Linked DNA regions of Homo sapiens. The protein of the gene in region 2 interacts with the protein of the main gene of each other region in a pairwise test. Each region holds a gene or a part of one and is shown on either strand. Other genes may lie near its edges.

Region 1 (3,043 bases), on a different chromosome or scaffold from region 2:
AGTGGTAGAGGGGACAGGAGCTGGGCTGCCTGGGTTTGAATCTAGTCTCACCATTTTTACTGAGATTTTGCACAAGGCAACTTCTCTGTGCCTGTTTCCTCGTCTATAAAATGGAGATGTACTGATGCCCTCTCAGGGTTCTTGCCAGGTCAAATGAGTCCACTCACGTATTATTCAGTGCAAGCATTTAGTGCCTGACAAAGTGGTGAGTGACATGCGTTTGCCATGATCACCCCGCCTCTCCCCTTGCTCCTCCCACTCCTTCCTGATTCTCAAACCTCTACTGCAATGTTCCTCCCGCGTCCTTACCTCCCCACAGAGGCCTGCCTCTCCCCGCTCTCTTCATCTCTTTTCATTCTTTTCTCCCCTCCAGACCATCCAATCCTCTTATCAGTCTGTCCTGAGTCCTCTCTATCTTCTGTGGATGCGCCCAGGCTCCCCTGCTGCTCAGAGGCCAGAAGCCAACCCCTCTCTAACCTGACCCACACACAGCACACACCAAGCTGGCCTGTCCACCTCATGTTTTATTGTAAAAATGTTAAAATAAATTACATTTGACATCGTTGCCAGTATGTACATACAGTGTGCGCGATGCCAGGACAACCAGCAACAACATGGTTCATTAAAACATTTCACAGAAAAATACGAGGCTGCTCCTTTTCAGGCCCCTGCTGGGTGGCGGCCTCTGCAAACGGCTAGAGAAGTGGGGGTGTGGGCACGTGCCCATCACTGTCTTCACATGTTGGGGAGGTGGGCTCTGGCCCCACTGCCCCACAGTAGTGGGGCAGAAGGCAGAGAGTGAACGGAGCTGAGCGGCTCTGATGACTTGCTTCCTGCCCGGCCTCCAGTCACCCGCAGTGGATGCCCCTTCCTGCTTTTGCTCACCTCAGTGTCCCCTTCTCCACCTCTGCTTGGGGACATGGCCCTTGACATCATGGCCTTGGATGAGGTCACCGAAAAAGGCCCAATTGAGTTGCAGGGCAGGAGGGCAGACACTAGATCTCCCAATCCTTGGGACCCTGCTCTTTAACCACTGGCTCTGAAGCCAACAACAGATTCCAGGTATATAAAAACAGCAGTTTGTTTAAAAAATAAAACAAAAAATAACAAAAACATTCAGGACACAGTGGGCCAGCCCCAGGGTGAACATCATGGAGAACCCAAGAACTCTAGTAGCAGCAAGTTCTGCCCACCCCTCACCAGAGAGTCCACCAACAGTTTCACATTATCTTTTGCTCCCCAGCCCAAATCCTTTCCTTTCTTAAACACACACGAGTGCACAGGTGTGCGTGTGCACACACGCACTGTGCACACACACGTGCACATCAAACACTAGCTAGAGAAAGGAGCTTGATTCACATATCTGACCATCACCCATTTGTGGGCCAAGAGCAATTTGGCCTCACCCTGCCTGGCCCAAGGGGGCTGGTGGGAGGGGAAGGCGGGCAGTGAGGTCCTTGTTCAGGGCACAGGGAAGGAGAAGACAGCAGGATTGGGAGTGCAGGTCCTGGGGCCAGCGGGCAGGGTGTGCAGTTCTCAGGCGGGCAGGAGGGGTAAGGGCAGAACCAGCCAGAGCTGAGCCTCACTCTTGCAGCTCCCTGGCCACCAGCCCTAGCAGTCCCGGCTTCCAGTAACCCATGCTCTGCTACTCTCCCTCCTACCACTTGGGGGCCCACAGAAAGCCTTGCGTCTGCCACTGCTTGACCTGAGACAGGGAACACAGCTCTGGGCTGGGCCTGAGTAGACCAACAAGGAGGATGAGGACCCCAGGCCCCAGGCCCACATAGGACTTGTTTCCAGGCCCTGTGAGTCAGGACTGTTTGAGACCCTGCCCTCATCTCCTCACTCCCACCTCCAGCAGCCTCCACCCCACTACGGTTTGTAGTAGGTGCCCGACCTGACCGGCAGGCCCACAGCTGGGATGCGGGCGGGCCCTGCTCCTGCTGTGGTACGGAAACACCTGACCCCACGCACAGCGGTACCTCCCCAGACACTTCAGAGCTCCCTCTCCAAATGCCGAGCTCAGTAATACCGGTAAACTTAAACAGCTGAGGCCCCAGACCTCAGAGAACCGTGTGATACTCCACCAAATGGTGAGACAAAGACCCTGCAGGCAAGGCCTCCTCAGGGTCAGTCCTGCCCACCTGTCCCGCCAGCCAGCATGTCTTTGCATTGTGAGATACACCAGCCAAGCTCAGGACAGATGCCCCCACAGCCAGGGTATGGTTCAGCTGGAGAACAGAGGCCCTGTCCCGGGCATACATCTAGCTGAGGATGATGGAAGGTTAGGAAGGCCCCTGGCCCCCCACTCCCAGTTCCGAGGCTGCCCCCCCACCAGGGGCCAGGCGTCCCGGTCATCTCGGGACACCCTAGGGTGAGGGGGGAAGAGGCCATCAAAGGTGGGGTGGGGAGCCGGCCCTGCCTCATGTGCCCTTGGGGCTGTTAGCCTTGTTGTACTCATTCATCAGCTGTTCGTAAGGCACAGAGAGCTCAGACTCAGTGCTGGTGAAGGTGGACTCGGAGGAGGAGGGGAACTCGCCCATGTTCAGGGGCGCCTTGGCTTCAGCCCCCTGCTGGGGGCTCTCCTCCCCTGCCAAGTTGTCCTCTAGCGAGGACTTGGAGGTCTCCTCGTCTGAGAGGCCAGCCTCCGTGTTCACGAAGGTGATGCTGGCGTCCTGGAAGATGAGTGGGTGGTAGTCCTGGGCGTCCCATGGCTCGCATTCCTCGCTGATGCGGTCCAGCTGGTTCATGAACACCTCGGGGGCAGGGGAGCTGTCTTCAGGGGCCCGTGCCACAGCCTCCTCATCTGGGGACCTTGATACGTGGCCTTTGCTCCTCAGTGTCTGTGACACCTCTTCCAAGGTGGGCACCCGGTTCTTGGAGTAGACTACCAGGGGCACCAGGGAAGGGGGCAGTGCTGGGAGCCCACCGCCTTGAGGCCCCAGCCCTGGGCCCGGGCCCGTCTCCCCACCCCCGCTTGTCTTCATGGCCTTCTTCCCGATCTGCTTGATGAGGTCGTTGTAGGTCTCTTCCTTCTTGGAAA
Region 2 (7,345 bases):
GATATATATTTGTATATATAAGATTTTCTTAAATCTTATTTTATTAACTAATTCTAAACTTTAGAAAAGTTTCAGGAATAGAACAAAGAGCTCCCATATCCTTTCCCAAGGTTCACTCATCACTACCATTTTTAACCTATTTGCTTAACATCCCCGTCTCTACACACATAACACCTTTGTTGCCCTAGACACTACACACCTCAGTATGTGTACACACAGCTGTTTATAGGCTGTGCCTTTGGTTTGTTTCTTAAGGTGCACTATATGTAGATCATTCACTCAACAAATGTTAAGTGAGCACCTACTACACAACCAGCACTGTTCAGGCACTGGGGGTTCAGCAGTGAATGAAGCAGGCAACAATTCCTGCCTCCAGGGAGCTCTGCCACAAGTTTCCTGTCCAGGTCTTCACTGGGCCATGCAGGCCATGCTTCTCTTTGAGGGCTAGGAGACAGACCACTGGGTTTGGTGGGGTCCACCTGAAGAAGCATGGGACGCTCACAGGATATCCTGGAAAGGCCTGCCTCGAGTCAGGCATGCCTGGCTCAGAATCCCACCTGCCGCTTACAAGCTGTGTGACTGCAGGCCAGTGGCGTGCCCTCTCTGAACCTGGAATGTCTCTTTAACTTGAGGTAAGAACCCCACTATCTGGCAGCATCAAGTGGCCATTGGATGTCCGGCTCCTTCCCGTGACTCTGGCGGGGCCTGGTGGACGCCCTGCTCTCCCTTCTCCGCTTCACTCCCTTGAGCAAGTCACTTGGCGTCCCTGAACTTTATGTTCAGCAACTATTCTGAAGGCAGGTGGATACCTGGGAGGAAACTAAGAACCCCCGAGTATCGTCCTGGGTGCTCACGCCAGGGCTTCATTCTTGGCATGACTTTTCTGCAATGGGGCGGTCACCCCCGTTTAATAGAAGTGGAATCTGTGGCTCGCAGGGGCTAGTCGTGTCCCCTGGTGCGGGAGCAGGATGGGACCCAGGCTGCCTCACTGTGCAGCGGGGACTCTGACTCTCCATGCTGTATGAAGCAACCTGCTGCCTACCCTCAAACCACAGGGACTATCGCACCCTCATCAAGGGTCACCAGACCCTGGGCCCGGGGGCCAGGCAGATAACACAAATGAGAGAAGAGGGTGAGGGCTTGGGGACACCTGGGATGCCTGGTGTCAGGGGGCACTGCTGACTTAGTGCCAGCTGGCACGGAAGTGCACAGCTGGGTTGCCAGAGCTGGCAGTTTTTTCAAGAATAGACAGAAATTCAGGATTAAATTGAAAGCAATCTCTCCCAGGCATGGAACTCACCGTGAACCTTGATCTAAACAAGGCTGTGAATAGCCCGGTGGGGTTTTGGCCCTGTGGTTTATGCCAGCCTGGCCCTGGCCCTGGCTAGAACTGCCCCATTGAGTTTTCCACCTGGGTCTTTGCCAGGATACTGGGCCAACTGTGTCACCTGGTGACCTCATTACCTGGTATTTCTGCTGGTCCGAGGCGACGCCATCCCACCACAGCCGGAAAAACTCCTGCTCCACAGCGATGAACCGGCGCTGCTGGCCGCGGGCCAGCTCTTCCACCACTGAGGTGTAGACATTGGCGGCGTACGCCCGCATGCTTTCCTGGGGAGGGGACAGCATCATGCCAGCCCCGGTCCAACAAGACCAAGTGTCCCTGGGGCCCCTGCCATTCGCCAGGTGTGTCTGCATGGGGTTGGGGGCTCTGCCCTTCCTTCCCTGCTGCTCACCCCCCACACAGCTATTAGGCACTCGCTCCATACCAGGCTCTCCCCACTGGATGGGATCGTGCTCTCCTGGGGGAGAGGGACGGGGAAACAGACACCCTACATGGGCAGAGACAGGTGCCCTCCCAGCCCAGGGGTCAGGGACAGTTTCTCAGAGGGGTGAGCAAGCTGGGCCTTGAGTGTGCAATTTGGGGGGCTGGGCCCTGAGTGTGCCATTGAGGGGCAGCACAGGAAAGTCTTAGGCCTCAGTCGGGGTGTGGTCCAGTGACCCCAAAGGGGCCTGCTGGGGCTGAAATGAGGAAAGCTGGTGCTGAGAGGAAGAGCTCCCCAGGCTGTCCCTGGCGTCTAGGCGTCTGCCTCCCCAAGGCTGGGAGCTCCAAGGACCACAGCTGTAGTGTGTTCCCATCCGAGTCCCGAGGGCCCTGCACACAGGGTGCCCACAGAGTGCTTACATGAATGGAAGGAGCACCGAGCAGGGAGTCAGGAGGCATGAGGGTTATTCCCGAGCGACCTTGGGCAAGGCAGCAACCCTCTCTGGGCCTCGGTTTTCTCCTCTGGAAACTGGCTGTAGTGGGCATGCTTCCCCTACCCTTTACAGATGGGGAAACTGAGGCTTAGGGACCAAAGCCCCTCGCCCAAGGTCCTGAGCAGAACCAGGAGGTGACCACAGGTCCACCTTCACCCCTGTCCTGGGGGGCGGAGGACGCTGAGCTGGCCTCCAATATTCAGCCCCGCAGGGGACCAGCCCGGCCCCTTCCCAGCGGGCACCTGACATCCACCTGCTCTGAAGCCAGCCCCACCCTCTCCTGCTCCAGGCTTCCCTGGAAAATGGGTTACCACTGTCAACCCCCAAGCCCCTCCCCAGCCGGGAATGCAGGGGTCCCTCCAATCTGCACCACCCTCCAGAAGGGGAAATGGGGGTTCAGAGGCAGGAAGTGACTGGCCCGAAGTTAGCGACGCAACCAGTCAATGGCAGCGTGGGGTCCTGAACCCACTGAGCCTCCTTCTGCGCCGGCATCGGGCCCCGGGACGCAAACCCACACTCAGATCCCGCGGGGAGAGGGAAGCTGCAGCCTCAGGGGCGCGCGGGGCGTGGTCGGCACCTACCTGCACAGTGTAGACCCAGCCCACGTCCATGTGGCTGTGGGGCACCACGAAGGCCCGGATGGGGCCGGCGGACTGGACCCCTGGCGGTCGCAGCAACAGGAGCGGTGCCAGCAGCGGCAGCCAGCACAGCTGCCCCATCCCTGCGGCAGGCCGGGAAGGTGCCAGGCCCACTTCCGGGTCCGCGAGGGGCGGGGCGGCCGCGCGGGCGGGGACGCGGCCCATTGGCTGCGGGCGGGGGCGGGGCCCATTGGTTGCCGGCTGGACGCCGACCCCGGGAAGCTCGGGAAGGAGGAGCTGGAGGCGCGGGGCCCTCAGCGGGGCAGGGCGCCTGCTCTTTGCGGTTTAGCTCTCCATCCCCGTCTCCAGCTTTCTGGCCTTCCCTCCCTGTCCATCCTTTCAGCCCCATCTCCCCCAAGCCTGCCAGATCTCCCCCAACCAGAGGAGACCCCTCCTCGCCCAAAGCCCACGCTCTGGTGGTTCCTCTCGGAGCGTGTGCCTCTTCGCAATACCTGCATCCCGCCCTCTGGACTCGGCTCCGGGACTCTGAGGCTACCGTGCAAAATTCGGCTCAGCACGGACCCTGTGAGCTCTGCCACCAGGAACCTTCCCTGATAACCCTTTCCCTCCTCTCCCTGGCGTCGAAACCCCATCTGGGCGGCGCCATGGGGGGCTTGTTATGGGACTGTCTCCTTTTTTTTTTTTTGGACAGGATCTCACTCTGTCTCCCAGGCCGGAGTGCAGTGGCGCGATCAGGGCTCACTGCAGCCTTGACCTCCCGGGCCCAAGTGATCCTCCCACCTCAGCCTCCTGAGTAGCTGGGACCACAGGGGCACACTGCCACACCCAGCTAATTAAAAAAAAAATTTATAGAGATGGGGGCCTCACTATGTTGCCCAGGCTGGTCCCAAACTCCTGAGCTCAAGCGATCCTCCTGCCTCCGCCTCTCAAAGTGCTGGGATTACAGGCATAAACCAGCATGCCTGGCTCAACTGTCTCCATTTTAAGGAGGAGAACTGGCTTTCAGAGACAGTAACTGACTTGTCCAAGATCACGCAGTTAGTGGAGGAGCCAAGAGAAGCTTTCTGGGTTACTGGATGGTGACCTGGGGCGACATAGGTAACCTCGCTGAGCCTCAGTGAAATGGGTCCGATAGAGGAGCTGTGAACAAAGTAAGGATGCACCCAGGCTGAGAGCGTGAGCACAGCACCCCTTGCCTGCACTCAGGGGAGGTGCGGTCACATTGGTGCAGCCTGTTTGGGACTGTTGCCTGGAGTCAGCCCTGTCCACTACTCCCTGCCCAAGAAAGCAAGGGTCTGTGGCTTGGGGTTTACTGTCTGAGAACCACTTGGCTGTGCCCCTGCCTGGCATTTCCTAGCGGAACCAGAGCTGCAGCTCTGAGCAAAAGTGCTGGTCCTCTTGTCCATTATGTAACAAATGGAAACTGAGAACAGGTTCTCCAAGCAGGTCTCCCTCCTCCTTCTGTCCTGTCCACCCCCTGGGGACCCCTGCATCCCCATAGCCTCAGGTCAGATGGTCTGAGCCTGACGTGGACAGTACTCACTAACACATGTCCCCATGACCGGCCAGGCTCACAGCTGGGCTCCACTCTCCAGCCTCTGCAACCAGGTGCGGCCACGTGGCTAAGTGCTAGTCAATGGGATGGGTGGGGGCGGGCACTGTGCTCCTCTTCCAGGCTGGCCCCTAACAACCTCCTGTGGGTGAGCCCTGCTCTCTTACTCACCCACTGCTCCAGTGGAGGGCACTCCGAGGACCTCAGGGAGGTTAGAGCCACCAATGGAGGCTCTGAAGAACCACATGGAACCATGAGGAACCCAAAGAGCTGTGACAAGAGGGAGAAATAAGCTTTAATTGTGTTAAGCCACTGAGTTTATCGATAAGGCAGTGTCACAATCTTTGGCAGACTGTATCTGCCAAAGATGGGCTCCACAACATTACCCACCCCCCAAGCTCTTTGTAGAATTTGGTTGACGAGAAAAGCCACACTCTAAAATATCTCAGAACGTTTATTCTAAGCCAAATAGGAGTGACCATGGCCTGTGACACAGCCTCAGGAGGTCCTGAGAACAGGTGCCCAAGGTGGTTGGGCTATAGCTTTATACATTTTATGGGGACAGAAGTTACAGGCAAAGACATGAATCAATATATGTAAAGTATACATTGGTTTGGCCCAGAAAGGTGGGACATCTTGAAGTGGGTGGGTGGTGCTTCCAGGTCAGAGGAGGATTCAAAGATTTCCTGATTGGCAATTGGTTAAAAGAGTTAAGCTTTACCTGAAGAGTTGGAGTCGGCAGAAAGAAATGCTTGAGTTAAGACAATGGGGATGTGGAAGCTAAGGTTCTTGTTACATAGATGAAGCCTCCAGTTAGCAGGCTTCAGAGAGAATAGATGTGCATGTCTCTGGGGACCTTAAAAGGTATCAGACTCTCTGGAAAAGAGCTAGTAAGTAAGGAGATTCTCTACAGAATGCAAGTTTCCCCCACAAGAGATGACTTTGCAAGTCCATTTCAAAATATGTCAAAGAAAATTTATTTTGGGGTAAAATACTTTGATTTCCTTTAGGGCCTGCTCTCTGTCGTGTGTTGCTATACCAGAGTCATGTTAGAATCGGGTATCTGATTGCTACAAAAGTGTTCTGTCAGTCTTAGGAGGATCTCTATGTTAATGTTAATGCTGGTCAGCTGTGCCGAAACTTAAAGGGAGGAGGCTATGATGAGGCATGTGTGACCTCCCACTTCCCATCATGGCCTGAACTAGTTTTTTGGGTTTCTTTGGGGTCCCCTTGGCCGACAGGGGGTCCATTCTCTCAGCTGGGGCTTATAATTTTATTTTTGATTTACAATATGATCTTGACATTCTTCCTATTAGGAGATAGGGTCTATGTCTCCTCTCATTGAATCTTGTTTATTTATTGTTTTTTATTTTATTAATTTTTGTGTTTTTTAGAGATAGAGTCTTGCTCTGTTGCCCAGGCCAGAGTGCAGTGGTGGACTCCTAACTTACTTCAGCCTCAAACTCCTAGGCTCACGTGATCCCCCTGTTTCAGCCTCCTGAGTAGCTGAGACCACAGGTATGTGCCATCATGCCTGGCTAATGAAAACTTTTTTTTTTCTTTTTTTTTTAGATATAATATCCCGTTATGTTGCCCAGGCTGATCTTGAACTCCTGGGCTCGAGGCATCCTCCCACCACCATCTCACAAAGTGCTGAAATTATAGGTGTATGCCACCATGCCCAACTAATTTTTCTTTTCTTTTTTGTAGACAAGATCTCTCTATGTTGCCCAGGCTGGTCTCAAACTCCTAGCCTCAAGGGATTCTCCGAAAGTGTTGGGATTACATGCATAAGCCACTGTGCCTGGCCCATGGGCGGGCTTGTGACACACTTGTTACAAAGAGAATGTAGTGAAAGTTGTACTGTGTGACTTCCATGACATCCATGTTCACTGGAGCACTCGTGCCTGGAGGCCTGAGTTGCCCTGTCAGCAGTCCAACTACCCTGAGGCCACCATGCTGTGAGGAAGCCCAACCAGCCCACATGGGGCAGACCACAGGGAGCAGCTCAAGATCACCATGCTGTTTCAGCTCCAGCCCCCCATCTGACTACAACAACATGTGAGACCTCATGTCATTTTCTCTCCTGCCCACTGTATCACAGCTGTGTAGGGTTTCATTTGTACTTTCCTCAAGGCTCTTGCGTGAGCTCTTGCTGCAGCTAGTCTCAGGCTTGAAGGTGATACTCACAACCCCCTCCTGGATTATTCATTCAGATCCCTTTCACCCTCAGCTAGACCCATGCTGGACTAGATAGCTTACCTGGTGGGTTGCCCCAGATCCTCACCAACGAGGATGAGCCCCTGGTGACCATTCCCTTCTTGAGCCATAGCTGCTCACTTGCCTATTTGCTGACTACATCAGGTGAAAGAGTCCTGAGGGACACCCATGTGGGTGGCACACAGTCTTCTCTGCTTCCATTGTGTGACAGCAACCCTACCTCCTCTGATGGTTCAGGTCAACTGCCCCTGCTCGATGGGTGACTCTTCCCCTGCCTACTGGTGTCTTGACATGAGTAGCCTGGCGTGACTGGTGTCGCTTGGTGGAAGCATTCCCCTTTGGAAACCAGAACCTCTGAACCTACAGAATCTGTAGTTGTGTGGACAGGAAGCACATATTCTCCAAGTAGGTCACTGAGAGTGATGCTAAATTAGGCTATTCCTGCTTCCATTCTTTGGTTCTTAGGCCCAGGTATTTTACCCACTGGGGACATCGTGTACTGGTCATTGACTTGGGATGTACATACACCCTGGAGGATGGTGCCCTTGCTTCACAGGTGGCACCTCCAAGCTGGTGCTGTGGCTGAGCCTTCAACTGGCCACTCCATTTCCCCATCAGCCAGCAGCCTCTGGGTTGTACAGCACATAATAGGACCACTAGACACCATGGGTGTGCCTGCGGTTGCACCTCTTTTGCTGTGAAGTGGAGCCCTTGG

Evidence for each region.
Region 1: the proteins of MAN2B2 (region 2) and KCNK5 interact in binary tests that used the Homo sapiens proteins (3 or more experiments, as listed by UniProt).

Annotation. Positions count from the first base shown.
Region 1 is NC_000006.12:39,188,467-39,191,509, forward strand, and holds the end of KCNK5 (potassium channel subfamily K member 5), read right to left. Parts: coding exon 2,424-3,043; 3' UTR 505-2,423; downstream 1-504. UniProt on the Homo sapiens protein: K(+) channel that conducts voltage-dependent outward rectifying currents upon membrane depolarization. Voltage sensing is coupled to K(+) electrochemical gradient in an 'ion flux gating' mode where outward but not inward ion flow opens the gate.
Region 2 is NC_000004.12:6,570,844-6,578,188, reverse strand, and holds the start of MAN2B2 (epididymis-specific alpha-mannosidase isoform 1 precursor), read right to left. Parts: upstream 3,001-7,345; 5' UTR 2,979-3,000; coding exon 2,841-2,978; intron 1,612-2,840; coding exon 1,465-1,611; intron 1-1,464.